2 separate regions of the Homo sapiens genome follow, and region 1 is linked to region 2. The links come from fine-mapping of genetic effects on gene expression. Tissue or cell type: whole blood. Region 2 holds a variant in brackets; the other region holds the start of a gene. All regions are shown on one strand. Distances are from middle to middle. Region 1 holds the start of DNAJA1 (DnaJ heat shock protein family (Hsp40) member A1). Region 2 overlaps APTX (aprataxin).

Evidence for each region.
Region 1: DNAJA1 starts here. The variant in region 2 is fine-mapped to the expression of DNAJA1 in whole blood (INTERVAL, PIP above 0.99).

Annotation. Positions count from the first base shown.
Region 1 is chr9:33,018,179-33,030,976 of GRCh38, reverse strand. DNAJA1 (DnaJ heat shock protein family (Hsp40) member A1) reads right to left here and starts at 5,704. Exons shown (of 9, transcript NM_001539.4): 1 at 5,594-5,704; 2 at 4,361-4,502; 3 at 3,987-4,164; 4 at 988-1,092; 5 at 310-537. The coding sequence starts at 4,492. It overlaps LOC124902139 (a long non-coding RNA gene), which reads left to right and starts at 12,726. Exons shown (of 2, transcript XR_007061453.1): 1 at 12,726-12,798. It also overlaps a transcript of APTX not described here and the pseudogene LAGE3P1. RefSeq lists enhancers at 5,054-5,123, 5,080-5,674, 5,652-5,946, 6,269-6,864 and silencers at 5,224-5,363, 5,644-5,793.
Region 2 is chr9:32,976,567-32,989,364 of GRCh38, reverse strand. APTX (aprataxin) reads left to right here. Exons shown (of 8, transcript NM_001195248.2): 3 at 1,236-1,282; 4 at 1,519-1,821; 5 at 3,335-3,394; 6 at 4,508-4,734. It also overlaps the pseudogene TCEA1P4. Among named protein-coding and RNA genes, the nearest start is that of APTX, 19 kb to the left of the region's middle. The variant T/C (reference allele first, on the strand shown) is at 4,972.

The DNA.
Region 1 (12,798 bases), 42 kb before region 2:
AGAACTATGGTTTAACAGGAGAGAATTAAGTTTGGAACACTATTCAATCATTTACAGGACCACAGATTTCAAAAGATGATCCTGTTATATTAAATGAGGAGATTCCTAATATATTCTGTATTAGTAATATACCAATGTGCAAAATTATGTCTGGATAAAAGAACATTATTTACTAAGCTGCTAAGAGTTATTTCTGATTGATAGGATCATATATAACCTAATTAAGAATGATTTTTAAACAATTATAAAATGTTAATAATAAATCTGCCACAGCATTCAAGACTTCAGAATAAGTAACTCAGAACTCACCTTTGTCAATATGAACTTCTAAAATTTTCTTCTCTCGAACTATCTTCCTTCCGTTGCAGCTTTTACATCTATCTTTAGGACTGATCCGCTCCCCATGGCCCTGGCACTCCATGCACACAGACTGAATTTGCTGAACCATTCCAGGTCCTATCTGATGAATTCTTATTTGCATTCCAGTACCTCGGCAATTGGGACAGCACTCTACTGCTCCTTTCTTACCTCCTCTACCTAAATTTAAAAAGAAAATTAAATAATGTATGAATTAGTAGTGTATACAGTAGTAAATGTTTTAAGAAGACAATTCCTAAATGCTATACTTTTAATATTTTCGAAGCCTGATGGAATGCTACCCTCTGAATGTACAACTGATGAGATCATTCCAATGAGTTTCATTCTTATTAGAACACACTTTCCAATAAATTTTACTTATTACAAAAAAGATACCAAACTAGCTTGATCCCAACTGTATTTAAAATATACACAGAAAAAAGTGCTGATATTTCTTTAGGTGGGAGGTTTTCAGTTGGTTTTCTTCATATCTGCCCTCTCCTCCCCCAAAATCTAGGTAGTGTACATGAATCAATTTTACATATCTATCTAGAAGTCTTAGCTCCATTTTCAGGTGTCATATTAAAGGTGCTTAAAAACAAAACAAAACAAAACAAAAAAACACCGTACCTTCACATTTGTCACAAATCACATTCTTTTGCAGAGCCAGTTTTCTTGTTGCACCATTATATAAGTCTTCTAGGGTTACTGAGAGCTGATGTACAACATTTTTACCTAAAACAAAATATTTCTCATTGCAAATCTGTTTAAGATGCTGGATCTTATTTGTGCTAAAGGCACTATAAAGAATGTGGCAAAGAATAATAAAAGATGAGCCTCACAGGGTACATCTGTTGACTACCTACTATATACACAGAATGTTCACGTTATCACAGATGATCCTCAAACTGTGATGTAATCACAGATGAGGGAAAATCAGGTCAGAGATTAAATATTTGCTTAAGGGCACAGACGTGGCCATCTTGGAAATATGGTAAGCAAAAGCATTACCTTCAAAGTCACTTGAGAAAAACCAATGTTATTTAAAAGGGCACATTTCACAATAATCCAAACATTCATTTCTGTCACAATATATTTTTTGAAGCTTTCACTTCGTACCGTATTGAGCAACATGGCCAATTACTTCATCCAAAAATTCTGTAGCACAGTAAATTCTCATTAATCAAGATTGGCCAGGGAAGCTGATGTATTTATTGAGTCACCACAGAAGAGTATCAATTTCTACTTCTTCCTGATTTAGTAGAAAACAGCCCATTTACTGCTGGGCCAGCACTGGTTGTTTTGAAGGCCAAATTTCTCATACCTTTTATAATAGCATTGCCCAACAGAACTTTCTGCAGTGATAAATGTTTTATATCTGTTCTGTCCAACGTAGCAGCCACCAATCACATGTGCTTATTGAGCATGTAAATGTGGCCATTTAGACTAAGAAACCGTATTTTTGTTTTTGTCTTAAATTAATGGAGCCACACATGGCCAGTGGCTACTAAGGAGTGCCTTACTTCACTTAAATCAGAATAGGAAATGGAAGGTCAAGATCTCATAAGGACACTGAGGTTAGAAGTATGAAGTCACCTGCTAGTAAGTTAGTAAGTTCCTAACTAGTGGTCCTTCCACAAGGACTTATTCACAACAATATTATTGCCTTTCCACCAACTGAAAAAAGTTCTCAAACTCGTTTCTGTACAATATGCCTAATGAACATTTTAACTTTCTAATCAAGCATGAAATACCATTAATTATGTCCTTCTGCTTATAGTTCCACCTTTAGTTTTGGCACGCTAAAATCTAGCTGCCCTTATTTTGAACAGTGTTGAGTATAAGGAAGGAAAAATAAAGCTTCTAGAGCTTGATGAAGCGCATTTCCCCAGAAATAACCTCTCAATATGATCATAAGCCACATAAAAGAGCTTGCCAATGTTAACCTGCAGGTTCTTTGTAAGGTAAGTGAAAAACCACCACTACTTTTTTGTGGACAAATTCTAACAATTTACTAAGCAAGTCATTTGGATTGTGGACTTTCTTTTTAAGGAGTTTAAGTATCTTAATAAAAACATAATCCTTTCCTTGAAGATCTTTAAAGAAAAACTGAATAAACAATTTCCCAAATCTTTCTGAACCTTAAGAAGCTCAAAGTGAAATTTAATGGCTTGGCCATTCATTCTAAAACTGGTTCTGCTCATCAGCCCTTATTTGTATACACTATACTGGAAATAAAGTGAGACTGATTTCTCTTGAACATTTTACTCCTATAAGCAGTATTTCTAGAGCCCATAGGCCACTTTCCTGATAAACATATTAAATACATAATTTTGACACAATAAAGCTGAAACAAGAATAGATAGATGGCAGGCAACGAACCAGTTTTCAGCCCTGGCTCTGTTGGCTTGCTATATGAGCTTGAAGAAGTTTTAGGTTTCTGAACTTTAACTTACTCCCATTTGAAAAAGGCCACTGTACCTACCATCAAATTCCTTTGGGGAGTGAGGGAACACCAAATAAGATCTGTAAAAAGGGCTTGGAAAATTATATTGCTATATACTTTGTCTTTTTTTTTTTTTTTTTTTTTTTTTGAGACAAGAGTCTCGCTGTGTTGCTCAGGCTGGAGTGTAATTGGGCGATCTCAGCTCACTGCAACCTCCACCTCCCGGGTTCAAGCGACTCTCCTGCTTCAGCCCTCCTGAGTAACTGGGATTACAGGCACGCACCACCATGCCTGGCTAATTTTTGGATTTTTTTGGGTTTTTTGTGACAGAGATTCACTCTTGTTGCCCAGGCTGGAGTGCAGTGGCGTGACCTCCGTTCGCTGCAACCTCTGCCTCCAGGGTTCAAGCGATTCTCCTGCCTCAGCCTCCAGAGGAGCTGGGATTGCAGATGCCCACCACCACGCCCAGCTAATTCTGTAGTTTTGTAGAGATGGGGTTTCACCATCTTGGCCAGGCTGGTCTCGAACCCTGACCTCAGTGATCCACCCACCTCGGCCTCCCAAAGTGCTGGGATTACAGAATGAGCCACAGCACGCGGCCTGTTCTCATAATTTGTTTGATAATATCTAAGATTTTTGGAAGCAGTCATTTGCTACCACTCTGTTGGCTATTTTTTAGGCCCCTTAAATCTCATTTTAAAAAAAGCGACACCACTGGCTGGGCATGGTGGCTCACACCTGTAATCCCAGCACTCTGGGAGGCCAAGGCAGGTGGATCACCACCTGAGGTTTGCAGTTCAAGACCAGCGTGACCAACATGGTGAAACCCCATCTCTACTAAAAATACAAAATTAGCCGGGTTTGGTGGCACATGCCTGTAATCCCAGCTACTTGGGAGGCTGAGGCAGGAGAATCGCTTGAACCCGGGAGGTGGAGGTTGCTGTGAGCTGAGACCACGCCATGGCTCTCCAGCCTGGGCAATAAGAGGGAAACTCCGTCTCAAGAAAAAAAAAAAAAAAACCACAACAAAAAAACACGACACCATAAATCAGAGGCAATTTGTGGTCAGTTTGCAACATTATACCAACATGTAAACAAGCATTTAAAATGGGTGATTTCTCAAAGATCTGCTCTGACCAACAGCTAACTTTAGTTAGCTGCACAAAGACTAGATTCTTCTTACCTCTCCTTTCTCTCTGCATCCTTCCTCCTCCTCCAAAAAACATATCAAAGATGTCCATGGGGGAGCCAAAACCGCCACCTGCTCCACCCTCTTTAATTGCCTGTTCTCCTCCTTTGTCATATAATTCCCTTTTCTTTGCATCAGAGAGAACTTCGTAAGCTTGAGAAATCTGTTTAAACTGTTTGAGAAAAGAGGAGTGAATTTCATTTTTTAAAAAACAAGTGTTACCTAGCTACATTACACTTGATCTTAGCTAAAAAGGCCGAGAAGTGATCATAGTTACTATATTAGATACTCGATTTCAGGCCATAATAGAAATACTATACGTCTGGCAAAGAACTATTCAGATACGTTTAAGAGTAGATACTATTCACCTTCTCTCCTTCATTTGGGTTCTTATCAGGATGGTACTTCAAAGCCAGTTTCCTATAAGCCTTTTTCAATTCTTCCTGAGTAGCATTGGGTTTGACCCCCAAAACATCGTAGTAAGTTGTTTCTTTCACCATCTTCTACTGCCTGAAATAAGAAAATGCAACTTTAACCGGCTTTCAACTGGTAGCTTTTAATAAAAAAGAGAGCTAAGGCCGAGCAATCTCTTTGCAAAATCCGATTATAAGAACACCACCTTCCCTAAATTTCACCAAAAAGGTAACAATTCCTGCGATAATTCAGCTATAAACTCGAACAGACAAAACAAATAATCATTATCGGGAAATAATCTGAGAGCCGCCTTCTAGCAGCTGGTTCCAATTTTCCTACACCAAAGCTTCCATACTAATATAACACAACTATTATCTGGATTCTTCCCGTTTGCCCTAGAGGCGGTGACAGTTGTAACCAAAAGAAGCACTGATATGTTCAGTCTACCGGTCATTACACTATCACTGTCTTTGGCAAATCTGATAAACTCCATATACTCTCCAGAAAAAGACGTCTGGGCACACAGTGGTGGGGGGGAGTGGTTTATAGAACAGGTTACTGGCTCCACACAGCAAGCCCTCCACCGCCCACGGCTTACAGCTTCTCCAGCCGAATCCCTCTCGCCCCTCAGGCTGGCAGAGTTTACCTGCCAGGTTTCCCCTTGCACTTGGCGCTGACCGATTTCCTTCCTTTCTCCCTCCCACCCTGGACCCAAGTGGCGGTGGGGAAAGCCCAGCCCTCAACAAACAAAGGGAGGGGAAACAGAGAAAGCGAAACCAAAAGCCGCAGTCTCCGCCCGGCTCCCCCCGCAGCCCCTCGCCCCTGCCTCCCTGTGCGCGTGCGCAGGGTCGCCAACCCCACTCCCCCCCCCCACCCCGAGCGAGCACGGACGGGGAGGGGGGCCGCGGGGGCGCGCACGGAGGGGCAGCCGAAGACAGTAGCTCCTTGGAGATCCCAGGCTGGGGAAGGAGGGAGGTCTAGGAAAGGTCTCGGGCCCATTCACTGTGCGTGCCGGGGATGGGTTGCCAGGGCACCACACCAGCCCTCCAAAAGGGAAATCGTGGGCCCAGGAACTGACAGCGGTCCTACCCACGCGGCCAACTGCCTCCCGACCGCGGCTCCATCGGTTTCCCGGCGCCAATGGCGCCAGCCAGGGGACTAGGGGCAGCGCGAGGGCTCAAACTCACCGGTGCGGGCTGAGGCCGGTGTGTGAGGGAGCGGGAAGGAGCGCCGAGCTGTGCGCAGCCGGGGTAGTTACCGCTCCTCCGCCTCTCACCGAGCGTTCTGGAAAGTTCCGCCCGGCGCGCCGCAGCCGTCCTCTTTTGTAGCCGAACCCGGGCGCGTCACCCGCCGGAAGTCCCGCCCTTCTCGGCCGCTGCCACCGCCCCGCCGTTACCTGGGCAACGGCGCGGGGGCGCACGGGTCGGGAGGAGCTGCGCCGAAAGGCCTTGTGGGTGTTGGTGCTAGCGCGGCTTCCCGGCGCTCGTGGAATCTTCTGGAGCCCTTTTCTCCACTCAGCGAGCCTGAGAGTGCGGAAGTCTCCGGCTGGTGGGGCATGGCCCAGGAGCACTGCAAGTCCTAGGGTTCCCAAACCTGTGGGGTGGCCGCCTGGGCCCGCGAGGGCGGGAAGGGCTCGAGTACAGTGACCCAGCGGGAGCTGTGTGTGAACGGGAAAGCTCTTGGAACAGTCTTGCCCCCCCCCCCCCCCCTCTTACGGGCGCCTCTTCTCTTTTTGGGAACGTGGCGAGCAAAAAATGCTTGAGCCAGGTGGGTCTAGTCCCCAGACCAATAGCATAGGCCTTGGGTCTTGCTGTTTTTCACGCGTGGTCCAAGGCGGCATAATTAATCAAATTGTGAAGTTGTTAAGGCTTTTTGTGCAAGTCCAGGCCCCTAGACACATGTTATCTGCCCTGGACCTCGCTGATTCGTGCAGATTGAGCTCAGTGTGTCTGGGACTGAGCTAAACAGTGAGACGTTTGGACCGTCTTTGATGTACAGAGGGCCGTGGACTCCTCTGGTCAGGTTTTCACCCAGTTTGGCTACAGAGTAGCCGCAAGAGTGTCTGACTAAAACAATTTGTTTAATTATTTGACCTCACTTTTAAATCCTACGGGTCAGGGAACCTGGATGTACAATCTGCAACGTAAGACCTCGGACTTGAAAATGGTACCACGGGGGCTTAATGGGAATTGGGGTCCGCTTCTTTATCCAGGGACACAGCAGGTATGTCAGTATCTAGCACCAAGAAAGATGGAGTTTGCCACGCTCGGTGGCTCACGTGTGTAATCCCAGCACTTTGGGACGCCAGCGTGGGCTGATTGCGTGAGCTCAGAAGTTTGATACCAGCCCAAGCAACATGGTGAAACCCCGTCTCGATTTAAAACAAAAACAGAACTGGAGATGCAGAGTTGAAAAGCCCCAGTTAGACTTTAGTGAGAAGCCAAACAAGTCAACAGACTGCCAGAGAAACCATGAGGTAGAAGTCAGTAGGGGAGAGCCTCCTATATTAACCTGATAGATCAGAGAGAATTTCTTTGGGAAAGTGGCAATTGAGCTGAGTTTTGAAAATGGGAGGAGAGCAGTGGACAAAGCACAGGGGAAGGCTATACTAAGGTGTGGAAGAATATGATGTTTTTAGGAAATTGCAACTAATTGGATATAGCCATAGCTAAGGGAGCTAGAATAGCCGGAGGTGAGGCTTCAAAGCTAGTTAGGGCATGCCTTTGTCTGTTGGTATATATGCTACGCTAAGAATTTTGAACTTTATCCTTGGAAGCATCCTCATGCTGCCTCTTCAGCCTTTTCTCTTTCATTAATTTTAACTGTGCATTCCAGTCACAGAACTATCCGCAGTTTCCCATATACGCCTTTTCACCTTTGTATGCTTTTGCATTGGCTGACAGACACCTGATTTTTTTCAATCTTAGGTGTTGCCTTCTCAAGTATCACCTCTGGTATAAAGTTTTTTGTTTAAACCAACCGTTAATAAACGTCTAATATTACCAGGCAGTGTACTAGGGCTTTGTAATACAAAAATCACGTAAGTCAGGCCGGGCGCCGTGCCTCACACCTGTAATCCCAGCACTTTGGGAGGCCAAGGTGGCGGATCACCTGAGATCCGGAGTTCTAGACCAGCCTGGCCAACTTGGTGAAACCCTTCTCTACTAAAAATAGAAACAATTAGCCAGGTATGGTGGCACGTGCCTGTAGTCCCACCTTCTCAGGAGGCTGTGGCAGGAGAATCGCTTGAACCTGGGAGGCGGAGGTTGCAGTGAGCAGAGATGGTGCCGCTATACTCCAGCCTGGTTGACAGAGCAAGACTCTGTCGAGTCTCAGAAAAAAAAAAAAATCACATAAGTCGTGGTCCCTGCCTTCAAGGAGCTCACAACATAGGGAACCAGAAACAAACAGTTGAGTGTTAAATGCTAATAAAGGAAGAGTAGGGGGTGCATGGTGGCTCAAGCCTGTAATCCCAGCACTTTGGGAGGCCAAGGCAGGCGGATCCCTTGAGTCCCGGAGTTTGAGACCAGCCTGAGCAACATAATAAGACCTCGTTTCTACAAAAATTAGAGTTAGTGTGGTGGTGTGGGCCTGTACTCCCAGCTACTTGGGAGGCTGAGGCAGGAGGATGGACCTGGGAGGTCAAGGCTGCAGTGAGTGGTGATTGCACCACTGAACCTCAGCCTGGACGACAGAGCAATACCCTGTCTAAAAACGAAACTAACAAAAAAGTTAACACTTTTAAGAAGCATTCTTACGTAAAATAAAATAAAAAAACTGGCAATAACTTTGTATGTGGTCTTCGTTTGTACAGAAATGGGATCATTATACAAGCTGTTTACAGCTTGCCCTTTTCACTTTGTCATCTTACTATGCCAGGATAAATAACTAATCTGCCTTGTTATTTTTAATGGCGTAGTATGTAGGCACCGTAATTTATTCCCCTACTGATGAATATTTCAGCAATTTCCAGTGTTTTACAAACTGCTGCAGAGAAATTAGCAAATACAGCTTTGAGTACTCATGCAAGTATTTCTGTTGGATGGACAGCTAGAATTGAAATTGCTGAGTCAACATGAATGTAGATTTAAAATTGTAATAAATAAGTTTCCATACTGGTTTGTAACTGCTTCCAGCAGTGTGTGAGTGGGCCTTGCCAATATGAGGGCCTTTTGTTGTTAAATCTTTGCTAAGCTTGGAGATAAAAAGTGATATCTTATTGTTTCGAGTTTCTTTGTTAGTAAGTTTAACCATGTTTTAAATGTTTACTGACTCTCCTGTCAACTGTTCATATTATTTTACCATTTTTCTGTGGTGTAATTCCACTATTTTAATAATAGCCCTTTTAGGGGTAGATATTAGTCTGTCATGTGTTACAATTGTTTTCTTTAGTATATTCTTCGCTTTTTACTTAGTATCTATATATATATTTTTCGGCCATATAAAGATTTTAATTTTTATGTAGATAAATTGTGACTCTTCCTTTTTGGCCTTTTTCTTCTCTCCACCTTCCCCTTCATCAGTCCAGCATTATAAATATAAATCTGTTGTCCCAGGTTTACAGGTTAGGTCTAGTACTTTCATTGTTTCCCTTTTTTTTTTTTTTTTTTAAATTAACAGCCTTGATGTGTTGCCCAGGCTGGCCTCGAACTCCTAGGCTCAAGTGATTCTCCTGCCTCAGCCTCTTCAGTACTTGGGACTACAGACACCTGCCACTGCATCTGGAATCATTGTTCCATTTTAAACTTAAATTTTTTATTCCATCTGAAAGTTATTTTGGTGTAAGGACTGAGGATTATTTGTAAGTAACTGATCTTTATTTTTCTCCAAATGGCAAACTAGTTTGTCTAACACTAATCTTATTTTTCCTGACTAATGTGAAATCCGCCCCCCAACCTTTTTTTTGTATGTGCAGAGATAGGGTCTTCCTATGTTGCCCAGGCTGTTCTTGAACTCCTGGGCTCAAGCAGTTGTCCTGCCTTGGTGTCCCAAAGTGCTGGTATTATAGGCGTGAGCCACCACACCTGGCCACCACTTTTAATGTATACTTAATTTCCACTGAAATACATGGTACTACTTCCCTTCATTGTTCTTGCTTTTTAGAATATTCCTTGTATTTTTTTTAATATGTTTATTCTTCCAGAGGAACTTAGGAATATTTCTGGCAGATTCCCCCCAAATCCCATTGTGAGTTTTATTGTGATTACAGTGATTTTATATATCAGTTTGGAGAGAATTAACACATTTAAAATGTCGAATCTTCCTACTCATGAACATATAACTGTATATTTATTTTCTTCATTTTTTAAACTAGGTCTTCATCATTTCTTCTTAAATGTGTTACTAGGCATTTTTTGTTGTTGCTGTCATGGATGGCCTCTTTTCTTACCATTATATTTTATTTCAGTGGGATATTTCATACTTTCTTTTTTTTTTTTTTTGAGACAGAGTTTCTCTCTTTTTGCCCAGGCTGGAGTGCAATGGAGCCATCTCGGCTCACTGCAGCCTCCGCCTCCCAGGTTCAAGCGATTCTCCTGCCTCAGCTTCCCAAGTAGCTGGGATTACAGGCATGTTCCACCACGCCTGGCTAATTTTGTATTTTTTAGTAGAGACAGGGTTTCTCCATGTTGGCCAGGCTGTCTTGAACTCCCAACCTCAGGTGATCTGCCCGCCTCGGCCTCCCAAAGTGCTGGGATTACAGGCGTGAGCCACCACGCCTGGCCAATAACTCAATAACCACATGGCCGTAAGTGTTCATAGAGGTAGCTGGAGATGGCTGGAGGCCTGGCAGGAGCAAAGTAATAAGGGCTTGGGCATTATGCTAAAAAGTTTGAATTTTGTTTTGAAGGCTCTTGAGAGACACTGGAGGATTTTAGGGATGGGGTGATATAACCTGTGACAGCTGACTTTTTGTTTCTTTTCTCTTTCCTCATCTGTTCTTTCTTTTGTGAGGACCTGCCAGGCACTGCGCTAAACACTCTACAAACGTTGCCATATTGTTATCCTCACAGTAACCCTTGTTTTAGAGCTGATTTGATTACATTTAAATTTCACAATAATCACTTGGGTGCTAATGCGAAGGTTGGATTCTTAGCAGGTTTTTATGGTGAGCGATGAGATCAGAAATGATGAGGCCTAAATAGAAGAAATGGAGAGGGAGAAAAATAAACACAAATATAAAAACATGTAAAGTCTTCAGGTAGAGTCATGATGACTTGATGCAGAGGTAGGGAGGAGGAATGACTTCCAGCTTTCTGGCTTTAGCAACAGGATGGTTGGAGATCCCCTTCCTGGGGTAGGGAGCCCAGAAGGAGGAAGAAGCCAGGGTAGGAGCAAAATTGGGTGAAGGAAAAGGTGAGTCCAGGTTTGAATGAGTACAACTACAGCTATACTTTTTTCTTTAGTTTACAAAGAAAAGGAGTCGGAGCCAGGGCGGTTATGTGGGACGTGGATGCAGACGCAGGCGGAGGCGCCAACTGCGGGGATGGCTAGGGTGATCACAGCTGCCCCGGGGGCGCGGACACCCCGGCAGCTCCGGCCAGCGGAGCTCCCCCACCGCACGTGTCAGGTCCTAGCAGAAACGCAGCGTCTGTGGCCAAGGGCCAGGAATGCGGCCGCACATATTCACCCTCAGCGTGCCTTTCCCGACCCCCTTAGAGGTGGAAATTGCCCATGGGTCCCTGGCTCCAGATGCCGAACCCCACCAAAGGGTGGTTGGGAAGGATCTCACAGTGAGCGGCAGGATCCTGGCCGTCCGCTGGAAAGCTGAAGACTGTTGCCTGCTCCGAATTTCCCTTATCAACTTTCTCGACCATCTTTCTCTGGTGGTGCGGACCCTGCAGCACTTTGGGCCCCCAGTTTCCCGCTAAGCCTGGCCTGGGAAAATGGGGCGAGGTCTAACCTTGCGTCTCCTCCTAGGCAGTGCATCCATCCTCCCTAGGGCAGGGAATTCCCACAGTTGCTACTTTCCCGGGAGGGCCTCATGGTCGGCCTGTACTGCCTTTGTGTGCTCAGGGGTCCCTTGTTTTCTCTGGTTCTTAAATGTTTGTTACCACAGAAAATAAAACTGAGCTACTATTAAAAAGAAAAAAGAAAAATTTTTATCGGCACAAAGTGGAAAGTAAATCCTAACTGAAATGCTATTTTTTATGTTTGTATAAATTAATTTAAATTTCTTAGAATATTTAGTTTTTAATTAACTGGGGCCAGACTTTTATTTATTTATTTATTTTTTGAGTAGCACCAATTTGTTGTGGTTCTTCTCTTCTGACTACGTACAATTTCAGTCTTTTTTATGAACTCTCTCCTTCATTCCTACCCCCACTCACCACCCTTCATTTTTTTAAACTGAACTTTATATTTAAGAATAGTTTTAGATTTGCGGAAAAGTTGTCAGGATAGTAGAGTTCCTGTTATTCCGCACTCAGTCTTAACCTATTGTTAAAATTTACATTAAAATGGTACAGTTCCCACAACTAATGAATCAACGTTGATACATTATTATTAACTAAAGTTCGTTCTTTATTTGGGTTTCTTTAATTTTTCCCTTTTCTGTTCCAGGATCCCACCAAGGACACCACATTACTTTGAGTTATCATATCTCTTTAGTCTCATCTTGACTGTGACAGTTTCTCAGACTTTACTTATTTTTAAGGACCTTGACAGTTTTGAGGAGTACATATCTTTCTTTTTGAGATGGAGTCTCGCACTGTTGCCTGGGCTGGAGCGCAATGGCGTGATGTTGGGTCACTGCAACCTCCGCCTCCCAGGTTCCAGCAATTCTCCTGCCTCAGCCTCCCCAGTAGCTGGGATTACAGGTGCCTGCCACCACGCCTGGCTAATTTTTTGTATTTTTAGTAGAGATGGGGTTTCACTATGTTGGCCAGGCTGGTCTTGAACTCCTGACCTCGTGATCCACCTGCCTCGGCCTGCCAAAGTGCTGGGATTACTGCATAAGCCACAGTACCTGGGGAAGTACAGTCTTTTTTTTTTTTTTTTTTCTGAGACGAAGTCTTGCTCTTGTCCCCCAGGCTGGAGTGCAATGGCACAATCTCGGCTCACTGCAACCTCCGCCTCCTGGGTTCAAGCGATTCTCTTGCCTCAGCCTCCCGAGTAGCTGGGATTACAGGTACCTGCCACCACGTCTGGCTAATTTTTGTATTTTTAGTAGAGACGGGGTTTCACCATGTTGGCCAGGCTGGTCTCAAAATCCTGACCTCAGGTGATCCGCCCACCTCGGCCTTCCATCGTAGTAGAGATGGTGAAACCTCATCTCTACTAAAAATACAAACATTATCCAAGGTGTAGTGGCACGTGCCTGTAGTCCCAGCTACTCGGGAGGCTGAGGCAGGAGAATCACTTGAACCCAGCAGGCAGAGGTTGCAGTAAGCTG
Region 2 (12,798 bases):
ATGAGACAGTGGCATCTAGCACTTGTCTTAGGGTTTAATAACATGAAAGTCCTTGCCCTCAGAAAAAAATCCTTACCATGTACCTTGTTTTTTCCTGTAAACATGCACACTGCTGGCTGGAGTGTGACCCCCCCACAGCAAGGTTTCCCAAGGGTTCTGAACTTAGAGAGTTGGCATCTGCAGCACTGATTATGATCTTTCCTATATGAGTTAATCTAAGTGGAGGGATACAAAGCCATGCTTGAGCTGAGTAGGCCCAAGATGCAGAAGCAGTGGCTGCTTCTCTCTCTGTTCCCTTCCTCACAACAGCAACTGAAGGGGCATGTATGTGGCACCCTGTCCTCTCTGGGGAGCAGCTATGGTGGTTCTTCTTTCCTCCCTGTCTCAACTCCAGATACCTTGTTCATTTATCAGAACAGGAATGCTTAATGTTACCACTTCTCACACATGCTCAGATTGTTCTGTCTCTGCAATCATCTTTCTAGAACATTCTTTCCACTCCTTCTACCCAAAGCCACCTGAGTTTCTGTTTTCCAGGAATGTGTCTTTTACTGTTTTATCTTTTAAAGCATCTAATAGTTGTTGTTTTTCCAAAATAATAGTGGAAGCCTGATTTAATCCTTGGTCAAGAGTTCGTGTGAGAAATGGATCTTTTTTTTTTTTTTTTTTTTTTTTTTTCCTCCTGAGATAGGGTCTCACTCTGTTGCCCAGGCTGGAGTGTAGTGGTGCGATCTTGACTCACTGCAACCTCCACCTCCTGGGGCTCAAGTGATTCTCCCACCTCAGTCTCCCAAGTAGCTGGGACTACAGGCATGTGCCACCACACCTGGCTAATTTTTGTATTTTTTTGTAGAGACGGGGTATTGCCATGCTGCCCAGGCTGGGAGAAACAGGTCTTCTTTTCTGGCGGCAGAGTCTGTGATCATGAGCAGGCCAGGGGTTCTGGAATAGGGAAACTTGTGGGGATTAATTGAAGCTGCCTCATAGGGATCTTGGCAATAGCTAAGGGAGTATGTACGCTGTTGGACATTTTATGGAAGGATTTAAACCTTTAGAAATTGGTAGGATTTGGAGCTCCAGCCACCTGCAATAACAGGTGATTGCTAATAGGCCTTTAAGGAAACACCACCTGTTCAGCTGCCGCCTGTAGTGAAGCTTGTTTTCTTTAGGGAAGATAGGAGCAAGTGCCTGGTTCTTTGTTGCATTTGTGTTTAACTTTTTCCAATCTCTTTCAGTACAGTTGAAAGCAGAGTGTAACAAGGGATATGTCAAGGTAAAGCAGGTAGGTGTATTTATAACTTGGAATTTTATACTCGATGATTTTCTTATGCTGTTGACTTTAGAGTGTCTGTGCCAGCCAGTGAAGGCTTCTCTGTCATGTATGGAAGTGATGGAGTAATATAGGTGAACATAAGGCAAGGTGCTTGGCATATAGTAAGTGGTTAACATAGCAGTGGCTATCTTACTGTAGGTGCTGTTGCTATTATTATAATTATTTTCTGATTGTTTATTCCATAGGTAGGAGTCAATCCCACCAGCATTGACTCAGTCGTAATTGGGAAGGACCAAGAGGTGAAGCTGCAGCCTGGCCAGGTTCTCCACATGGTGAATGAACTTTATCCATATATTGTAGAGTTTGAGGAAGAGGCAAAGAACCCTGGCCTGGAAACACACAGGAAGAGAAAGAGATCAGGCAACAGTGATTCTATAGAAAGGGATGCTGCTCAGGAAGCTGAGGCTGGGACAGGGCTGGAACCTGGGAGCAACTCTGGCCAATGCTCTGTGCCCCTAAAGAAGGGAAAAGATGCACCTATCAAAAAGGTGAGGGTAGTGTGATTGGTAGATGATGTGGAGAAGAAATGAAATATAATGACTGCTTAATTGTTTTGTACACTTTAAAGTTCAGAAATGCGTGAGGGGTTATTAACCATGATGAAAGAGTCACTTGTTTGTGGCGTGAAAATCATTTGGATGAATGTTCCTTTATGTGCTTTTTTCTTAAATTCCTGAGGTAAGCCACCTGAAGGTACAACAATAATGGCAGTGTGTACTTAACATTGAACAACTAAAGTGGATCAGTTGTTTATGCATCTATAGAAGGTTTTCATAGATCATGTAATTCATATGCTGATGTCAAAGTGGAGAATTGGTCAGGCTGTAGCTGCAGTGAGAGAGGGCAAAGAAGGTATGACTCATACTCTGGCATTTCTCGCCTTCATTTAGAACAGCCAGCTGTGAATATAGGAAGGCTGGCTGGGTGCAGTGGTTCACGCCTGTAATCTCAGCGCTTTGGGAGGCCGAGGTGGGCAGATCACTTGAGGGTCAGGAGTTTGAGACCTGCCTGGCAAACATTGTGAAACTCCATGTCTACTAAAAATACAAAAATTAGCTGGGCCTGGTGGTACACACATGCTTGTAATCCCAGCTACTCGGGAGGCTGAGGCGGGAGGATTGCTTGAACCTGGAAGGCGGAGGTTGCAGTGAGCTGAGATTGCACCACTGCACTCCAGCCTGGGCGACAGAGCGAGACTCCATCTCAAAAAACAACAACAATAATAAAAAACAGCTGGGTGTGCTGGCTCACGCCTGTAATCCCAGCACTTTGGGAGGCCGAGATGGGCAGATCACCTGAGGTCAGGAGTTCGAGACCAGCCTGACCAACATGGCAAAACCTAATCTCTACTAAAAATACAAAATTAGCTGGGCGTGGTGGTGCATGCCTATAATCCCAGCAACTCCAGAGGCTGGGCAGGAGCATCGCTTGAACCCGGGAGGCAGAGGTTGCAGTGAGCCGAGATCACGCCATTGTACTCCAGCCTGGGCAACAAGAGCGAAACCCCATCTCAAAAAAAAAAAGAAAGAATATAGGGTCGGGTGTGGTGGCTCACGCCTGTAATCCCAGCACTTGGGGAGGTGGAGGCCAGTGGATCACCTGAGGTGAGGAGTTCAAGACCAGCATGGCCAACCTGGTGAAACTCCGTCTCTACTAAAAAATACAAAAGTTAGCTGGGCGTGGTGGTGGGCACCTGTAATCCCAGCTACTTGGGAGGCTGAGGCAGGAGAATCACTTCGGAGGTTGCAGTGATCACGCCGCTGCACTCCAGCTTGGGTGAGACAGAGTGAGACTTTGTCTCAAAAAAAAAGAGAATATAGGAAGGCAATGGAGTGAAGCAGAGTCAAGTGAATCTTGTTTAATTCTCAAAAACTAAGCTTATTTCCAAGTTTAGTTGTGCTATCACACAGTATTAACTGTTGCCAAATTTAATTATTGGCATTTGTAATTTACATTGCTTGTTTTTTTTTTTTTTTGTTTTTTTTTTTGTTTTTTTTTTAGGAATCCCTGGGCCACTGGAGTCAAGGCTTGAAGATTTCTATGCAGGACCCCAAAATGCAGGTCAGAATACAATTTTGGAATTTCAGTACATTTCATGTTGTAAATGACCACTCCACAGAGGTCTTAATTACAAATGAAATCAAAGGATATCAGTCTTTCTGAATGAGATTCATTTTATTGGGCTGTTCTGTGAGAACAAGAGGCTTTTCACATTGGCAATAAAGTAGCAGCTGTCATTGTTTGGAGAGAAAGCTGAGTTCTTCAAATGAATATCCCCTCTGCCTTGTGCCTTTTAAACTTCTGGGTACTTTAAGGGAAGTTGCATTAACCTTAGTATGGTTCCTTTCAGGGGAGCATCAGAGATAATACACTGTGACAGTAGTACTGTGCTGCCCTGGCATTAACAGTCAGACATCCCTGTAATCCCAGCACTTTGGGAGGCCGAGACGGGAGGATCACCTGAGGTCAGGAGTTCGAGATCAGCCTGACCAACATGGAGAAACCCTGTCTCTACTAAAAATACAAAAAATTAGCTGGGCATGGTGGTGCATGCCTGTAATCTCAGCTACTCGAGAGGCTGAGGCAGGAGAATCACTTGAATCCGGGAGGTGGAGGTTGCGGTGAGCTGAGATTGCACCATTGTACTCCAGCCTGGGCAACAAGAGCGAAACTCCATCTCAAAAAAAAAAAAAAAAAAAAAAAAACAGGCATCATCCTTGAGGAGCCTTTGAGTCCCACTTCAATTATATTCCTTGTTGACAAGGGGCAGGTCTAATAGGGCTCACTGGAACCCACGTGTACGTGTCACACAGTCTGCCATGTTGGAGTGGAGAAGGATGCTTTTGAATTTATGTCTACAGAGATTTTACATCACATTCTTGGGAACTATTTTGTACTGTGCATCTTCTGTGTATTCTGTGTAGTGTGGTGGTTGAAAACAGACTCTGGAGTCAACCACATCTGAGTTGGAATCCTAGATTTCCCTCTTAGGAACTATGACTTGTGCAAGACACTCAACCTGTCTGAATTTCAGTGCTCTCCTCTCTCAAAACTGGGCTATTAAAACCATTTGCACAAGACTGTGGGAATTAAGTGACTTAGTGAATATAACAACCAGGCACACAGAAGATTCTTAGTAGATGTCTGTTTCCTTCTCTTGTATCCCTCTGCTAGGTTTACAAAGATGAGCAGGTGGTGGTGATAAAGGATAAATACCCAAAGGCCCGTTACCATTGGCTGGTCTTACCGTGGACCTCCATTTCCAGTCTGAAGGCTGTGGCCAGGGAACACCTTGAACTCCTTAAGCATATGCACACTGTGGGGGAAAAGGTGATTGTAGATTTTGCTGGGTCCAGCAAACTCCGCTTCCGATTGGGCTACCACGCCATTCCGAGTATGAGGTAAGCCAGGTGGGTAGTGCTGCTGGCTCCTGGTTCTGTCCAGGTGGGCAGATAGATTCAGCCTGGGCTTGCTGAGGGCACATATTGCACTGAGACCCAGGGAAGTGGGATGGAGTTTTTCCAAAGCAGGTGGGCTGAAGCTTCCACCTCTCTGCCTGACTTGCATGCAAGCTTTGAGTTCCCACTTCTGCCTATAATTCAGTCATATTTGGTTCTTTGTTCCTCTCAAAATATAAA[T/C]CTTCGAGAGCCTAATATATGAACTAGATGAAGCAGCTTCATTATCCTCAGATAAAGAATTGTGGTCAGTGGCTTTTATCAGATTCTTCAAAAGCGTCTATAACCCCAGAATGATTAAGGACCATTACTCTGAAGGAAACAAACATCATAGACTTCTGTAATGACAGCGTAGTAGATCCAGGATTTGAAAATAAAATGAGAGAAAAGTATAGAATTTGTTTTCCTGTGGCTTATGCCCAGAAGGATTCAGAAAGGAATGACTGATTTCTTTCAAAGAATACAAGCAAGGTGGATCTCCGTGATTTCTTTGATTTAAGCAATAAGATGATAAGTCTAGATTTTAGAGTTTTTATTTTGTTTTTAAAAAACTGTGATATAATATACATAACAAAATTTACATTTTAGTCATCTTTAAGTGTACAATTCATTGGCATTACTATATTCATATTACTATGCAACCATTACTACCATCTATCTCCAGAACTGTTTTCTCTTCCCAAATTGAAACTCTGTACCTTAAATAATAACTCTCCATTTCCCCCTCCCACTCCTGGCAACCACCATTGTACTTTCCTTCCCTGTGAATTTGACTACTCTAGGTACCTCATATTAGAGGAATCATACAAGGACATATTTGTCCTTTTGTGACTGGCTTATTTTACTTATTTACTTACTTATTTTACTTTACATAATGTCTTCAAGTCTTATCCATGTTGTAGCATGTGACAGGATTTTCTCTGCTTATTTTTTTTTAACTACCAACACTCACATTTTATTTAGGTGAATAATTATGACTTAGGTTACTGGCCACTTGAACCAAATGAAATCTTTGTGCCAGATTTTTCCCTAGTCAGTACTGATTCTTTTAAGTTGAGGCATAACTTACATACAATAAAGTGCATAATAAGATGCATAGTTTGATCAGTTTTCATAAGCGTGTATAATCTTTTCACTATCATTCTGATTAAGATACAGAAGATGTCTATCCTTTCATCCCAGAAAGTTCCCTTGTGCCCCTTTCCAGTTAATCCTCCCTCAAGCATTGCTTTTATTTCCTTCAGCATAGATAGTTTTTGTCTCTTCTAGAGCTACCATGTATAAATGGAATCATACATTGCATACTCTTTTTTGGTCTGGCTTTTTTGGGTCAGCATAATTTTGAGATTCATGTGTGTTATTGTGTATATCATAGACATATGTACTTTATTTATTTTTTTCCCCTTGAGTAAATATTTAGGGATCCCAGTCTGGGCAACATGGCAAAACCTGTCTCTACAAAAAATACAAAAAATTAGCCAAGGGTGGTGGTGCACACCTGCTACTTGGGAGGTTGAGTTGGAAGGATCACTTGAGCCCAGGAGGTTGAGGCTACAGTAAGCTATGATCACGCCATTGTACTCCAGCCTGGGCAACAGAGTGAGACTCTGTCTCAAAAAAGAAGAAGAAAAAAAAAGAATAAATATTTGGAGATGGAATTGTTAGGTCATAGGGTGGATGTATGTTGTACCTCACTTTAAAAATATAAATATATTTTTATTGTTAAAGGCTGATTTGAAAATTTAGGAGGGAAAGTCACCCATAATCCTGTTTCCCTAATGCAGAGCCCCTGACTAACAGAGCCCTTGGCCACTGAGCCCTTTTCACGTAGTGATCGTGATGCCCATACCTTTTTCCTACAGTGAATGTTGTCGTGCTAAGGAGAATGCTCACAGCAAGAGCTGTGGTAGGTATATATGGGAGGCAAAATGAGCCAATAAGCAAAGTTGCTATTTATATACCCTTTTATATTACTCTGTATGATGTAGTTTTGAATAAATGAACATATTAGAAAGGAAAAGGTGATAAACAAGTAAAATTATTTTTCCTATTGTAAAAGTAATGTTTTCAATTAAGAAAATATAAAAAATTAAGTATGAAAAAGAACAAAGACCTTTCATAATACTAACTGTAGATAACTAAACTATAGACCTTATTTTAGATAACTTACTAAACTGTAGACCTTATTTGAATTTCACCCATTTTTCCTGTATTGTTCTTTTTCTACTCCAGAATCCAATCTCACATTTCATTTATTTGTTCTCTCTTCTTAGTCTCCCTCAATCTGTGACAGTTCCTACTTTCCTGGCTTTCATGACCTTGACACTTTTGATGAATACTGGCTAATTGTCTTTAGGACGTCTTTTAATTTGGGTTTGTCTAATTTTGTTTTTCATGATTAGGTTGACGTTATGCATTTTTTTAATCACTGAAGTGATATTTCTGATTGTGTCCTTCTCAATATGTCATATGGGGGGGCATGATGTTGAGATGGTTTATTACTGATGATGTTAACCTTGATCATTTTGTTAAGGTGGTGTCTGCCAGGTTTTCACCTTCAAAATTACTGTTTTTTTTTTTTTAATTCATGAATATTTTGGGTTAGATATTTTGAGACTATACTACTATTTCTCCTCAAACTCGCACCCAATGATTTTAGCATCTATTGGTGCATCTTGCCTGTAATAGTTATTGTATTGGTATTTACTCTATGGTGACTTTATACTTCCTTCACCTAACTTATTAGTTGAAATTATTCTGTGTGAAAGCGCTGTTCTGTCTTTCTCATTAGTTCTTTATTCAATCATTTAATGGTATGGACTCATGGATGTTTATTCTATAGGTTATAATTCAATACTATAATTATTTTGTTGCTCAAATTGTTCAGCTTTGGTTATTGAAAGCTCCTTTAGGTCAGCTCTTGTGTCACTTAGATACGCCTTCAACATCTTTTGGGCAATTTATTTTCTGGCCCCACAAGATGTTCCAGGCTTATCTGGAATGAACCACTTCTCCAAAGAGCCCTAGGTCTTCTTGGGCACTAGGTTTCTGTGAGAGAAGTGGTTGATTCCAGGGTGTCCTTGCTTTCTAGGTCCTCTCAGCCATAGAGCCAGAAATGCATGTATGAATCCTAAGCCATACACACACACACACATACACACCCCTATAATTCTGTGTTTATCTACCTTTATTTGTATGTGAAAAACCATGAGTTCATACTGATATCTCTGACACCATTCCAACTCTAAGTTTCATTCTTGTTTCCCTTTTCCTTTTTTGTAACTACTTTCTCCAACAGTGAGAAACCTGGCTCTCATTAGTTACAATAAATTCATTTACTTGTTCAGTCCTAGTGTACCCATAAAATAGTTACAGGATTCCTAACCCATACCCCTGTGAGAAGGACATTTACTAACTAGAGTACAGTACTTGCCTATAGTTCTTTTTGTTTTTAGCCTTATCGTATCTAGTCAAAACACTGTTCTCCAAAGCTAGGTTACTATAGTATAGTTAATATATTTTCTTCCTCAATCCATTTAGTGTGGTTTCCTCATTCATTTGTAATACAGCTATGCTTATTTATTAGTGCTTATATTTCATTTTGGATTCTGCACACATGTTGATTGATTTTGATTATTTATTGGGAGAACGTGAAATATTACTGATTATAAGAGTGAAAGCTGTTATACAAAAAGGCATTCTACTTGGTTTAACAAGTCCAAAAGAGAATTCCTGATTTTCTTCCCCAAACCTGCTTTTTCACCTAACCTTCTTTATCTCAGTAAGTAACACTCTCCCAAAGCAACATGCAGCCCATTAATAAGTTCTGTTTGTTCTATTCCAAAATGCATTCAAAGTAGGATTGCTTGTTGACATCTCAGCTGCTACAGCTCAGCTCTAGTGTAGGCTGTGATTTTCTGGCCTAGACTGCTGTAGCAGCCTCCTTAACTGGTTTCTCCATGTTCCTCCCTATCCGTCCTTTCTTCACACAACAGTCAGAGTGATCTTTTAAACATGTAAATCAGGTTGCCCCTGTGGGCTTGGTTTGTGAGGAAGAGCCTGGCTCAGCCTGTCAGGACCACTGAGGCTTGTTTCTTGCCATCCTTTCCACCTCAGTTTTACACACTTCTCACCTCCAGCTGGCTGGGTGTGGGGAAGACCTGCCAGAGCCACATTGGACAAGGTGGTTCCCATTGCCAAGTAGATGGACAAGATGGTGCAGAAGAATACAGCTGGAGCATTGGATTTGCCAAAGGAGCTTAAAAATATTCCCATGACCATGGAATTATTACAGCCCCCAGAAGAATCAGAATATCAGTTAATGCTAATGGCAAGCAGCATAAAGATGAAGAAGTTACATCTTTAACAGTCTGTCATGAAATCTGGGAAAAAGTTACTATCAACCGAGAAAGACCCTGAAGAAAAGAAAAAAGAACCTGCAGTTACATTGCAGAATAACTCTGAAGCGAGAGAAGAAAGTAGCTCCGGTGGCAGTGCAAGCAGCAGAGAGGGTGAGACAAATGCTCTAGATACTCGTGTTTCATCTTTTATTCAGGAACGAAGCACTTCTGACTCTCTTTGGTTAAAGTGTTGCGAGGTGCTTGCTGCAGCTCTCCAAACAGGAGATGGCTACACTGCTATTGGAGCTGGTGAGGAAGAATTAGGATCTCAAATTGAGGAGGCTGTATATCAAGAAATTAAGGAATATAGGTACGAAATGCAAAAGTAGAGTATGAAGTAGGATATCAAATCTTAAAGAGCAAAGAATCCAAATTTAAGGGAAAATGTACCATGTGAGAATATTCCTCCTGTCTTATTTGCTAGAATGATGGCAGAGGAAATGGCTAGTGATGGGCTCAGAGAGATATGGAAAAACTTGACCAAAGAAGTCATCAGAGAGCATTAGGTGGCCAAGGCAGGTGGAACCCAGAGTGGCTTGTTCACATGTGCAAATGTAGTGCTGATGGACTGATAACATTCGTTGTCTGTAATGAATGTGGACGTCAGTGGAAGTTCTGTTGAGTTGGAATAACTACCAAAATATCTGGACTATTAAGAAATTAGATTTTGTATGTTCATTGCAGCACTATTCACAGTAGCAAAGACATGGGATCAACCATGATTGATGCCCGTCAGTAGTAGACTGGATGAAGAAAATGTGGTACATATACACCATGGAATACTACACAGCCATAGAAAAGAACGAGAACATGTCCTCTGCAGCAACATGGATGGAGCTGTAGGCCGTTATCCTAAGTGAACTAACACAGGAGCAGAAAACCAAATACCACATGTTCTCACTTATAAATGGGAGCTAAATACGGAGCACACATGGACACAAAGCAGGGAATGACAGACACTAGGGCCTATTTGACAGTGGCGGGAGGGAGGTGGGGGAGGATTGAAAAACTGCCTATGGGGTACTATGCTTATTACCTGGGTGGCGAAACAATCTGTATAGCAAACTCCTGTGACATACAATTTACCTATATAGCAAACCTGCACATGGATCCCTGAACCTAAAAGTTTTAAAAAGTTACCTATATTAAATATATTAATGATAGAAAAAAAGGAGAACCAACTTGGTAGTTAGCAAAACATAAGTTATATCCAAAAAAATATGCTTTTAGTAGTGTGATGGGACAGAAGCCCAATCATAGTAAATGGATCAAAAAGTGAATATCAACAATAGAGCTTTAGGGTTTGCGAACCACTGTTGTAAGAAAGTGGGTCATGGAAGTGGAGTCAGCAGAAACAGTGCTCATCTGGCTTGTAGTTAAGGGAGAATTGTAGCCTTTTCCTGTCCTGCTCTCCTGTCCCCCACCATGGATATTGAAGGTGGGAGGATACATACCATAAATGTTTATGGGACAGGTGATACCTCATTTAAAATCTGCTGTCTATTATTTATCAGAAATTGCACTTGAGCTTTATTTCTTTCATTTCATCATCTTAGCAACCCTGTAAAGTAGGTATCTTCACTTCCATTTCACAGATAGTGTTGCTGGGGCTTAGAAAATGATAACCCCAAATAAAGGCCTCAGAAGCAAAATTTCTCCTTGACCTTCTCCTGCTCCCGTCTCTTGCCCCTCATTCTCCCCCTAAGCAAGCCATAGAAACTATAATTCCTCTTTCTCAAGGCAGGTTATAGAAACTAGAACCTTCTTCCTCAAAGCCAACCAAAAACCCCAAAATATTACTCTAACCTTCTTTTCTATGTAGACCTGGCTATAAAGAAATTCCCTGATCTACCTTGTTTGATGGTAGGTCATAAGACTGCCATTCCCATACCTGGGAAGAAGGAATGCTGCACAAAGAGGTTAAGAAGAATCTGGACAGACAGGCCTTGCTGAGTTTCCCCACTCAGTCTATTCTCATTAAGTCGTATACCCTTTTGAAGCAGTAGTGGTTCTACATGGCTTTCCATTCTTCAACAAACCCAAGTGTAAAAATGGATAGTTTTCCCCGTATCTTTGCATCTTCATTTGGAAGGCTCCTGTGTCACATAAAACTTGGATTAAATAAATTTGTTATGCTTTTCAAAAAACAAAAAAGGATGGATTTTGTAATTAGATTTAAAACTGGCCAAGCAACTAGTTTTCCTACAAATTAGATTTTTAAAGCAACACACTTGGGTTAGTCCTTGTTTTTGACCTAATGCCCCTTCTTTAAATACCTTCTTATATCAGAGACCATATGATAATTATATGGTATCTGTTTCCGTTTTTTTTTTCTTTTTCTTTTTTGAGACAGAGTCTCACTCTGTTGCCCAGGCTGGAGTGCAGTGGTGCAATCTCAGCTCCCTGAAACCCCTGCCTCCTGGGTTCAAGCTAGTCTCATGCCTCAGCTGTCCGAGTAGCTGGGATTACAGGCATGCGCCACCACGCCCAGCTAATTTTTGTATTTTTAGTAGAGATGGGGTTTTGTCATATTGGCCAGGCTGGTCTTGAACTCCTGGCCTCAAATGATCCACCTGCCTTGGCCCCCCAAAGTACTGGGATTACAGGTGTGAGCCACTGCACCCAGGTTTTTTCCCCCCCATTTTTATAAATGAATTTTTTTATTCATTTTTTGTTTTCGTTTTTGTTTTAAGAGATGGGAGTCTCACCCTCTCTCCCAGTCTGGAGTACAGTGTCAAGATCATAGCTCACTGCGGCCTTGAACTCCTCGGCTCCAGGTATCCTTTTGCCTCAGCCTCCCGAGTAGCTGGGGCTATGGGTGTGCCACCATGCCTGGCTGATTAAAACAATTTTTTAGAGATGAGGGTCTCACTATGTTGCTCAGGCCAATGTTGAACTCCTGACCTCAAGTGATCCACCTGCATCAGCCTCCTGAGTAGCTGGGATTACAGGTATGAGCCACGTGCTTGGGTCATTTTTATAAATTGATATGAAACTTTTATCAATTAAAATTCTGGTAATTTATTTTTATCTCTTAAGTGAAAATGTACCTTGACTTTTTTATTTTTTAACGGTTTAAAACATGTGCAGTAGAAATTCTCTGTTAATACATAAATGGAAATTACATTTTTTTTCATATTGGCGTGTATCTACAAATATTAAAGGACAAGAAAAGGTAATATAATTTTAGGTTTAACAAATATGGTGTATATTCAAATAATACTTGACCAGCTTATCTAAATTGTACATAATATTTGGACTAGCATATGAATTTGATTTTAATTATTATGTTCACAAGCCTGGGATAATTAGATGTTATTTTGCATCTGTAACTGTAATCATTTCTTGTAATTTCTTGTGCAGGTGTATTGTACTTAATAGATTTTACTTTTGGAAATATGACTGTTGAAATTAGCTTAGCTTTTATTTACTGTTTGTAGAGTATTTTCGTTTTGGAGAAGAACACTGTTTTAGTTTAGGACGCTTTTCAAGAGTGAAAGCTTCTGATGATTTTTTTCCCTCATAGGAAGAAATACTGGAAAGAAAATGTTAGTATAATGCAGTTATTGTAACAGCTTATGACTTGATTTTGATTTGGAAACCTATACTG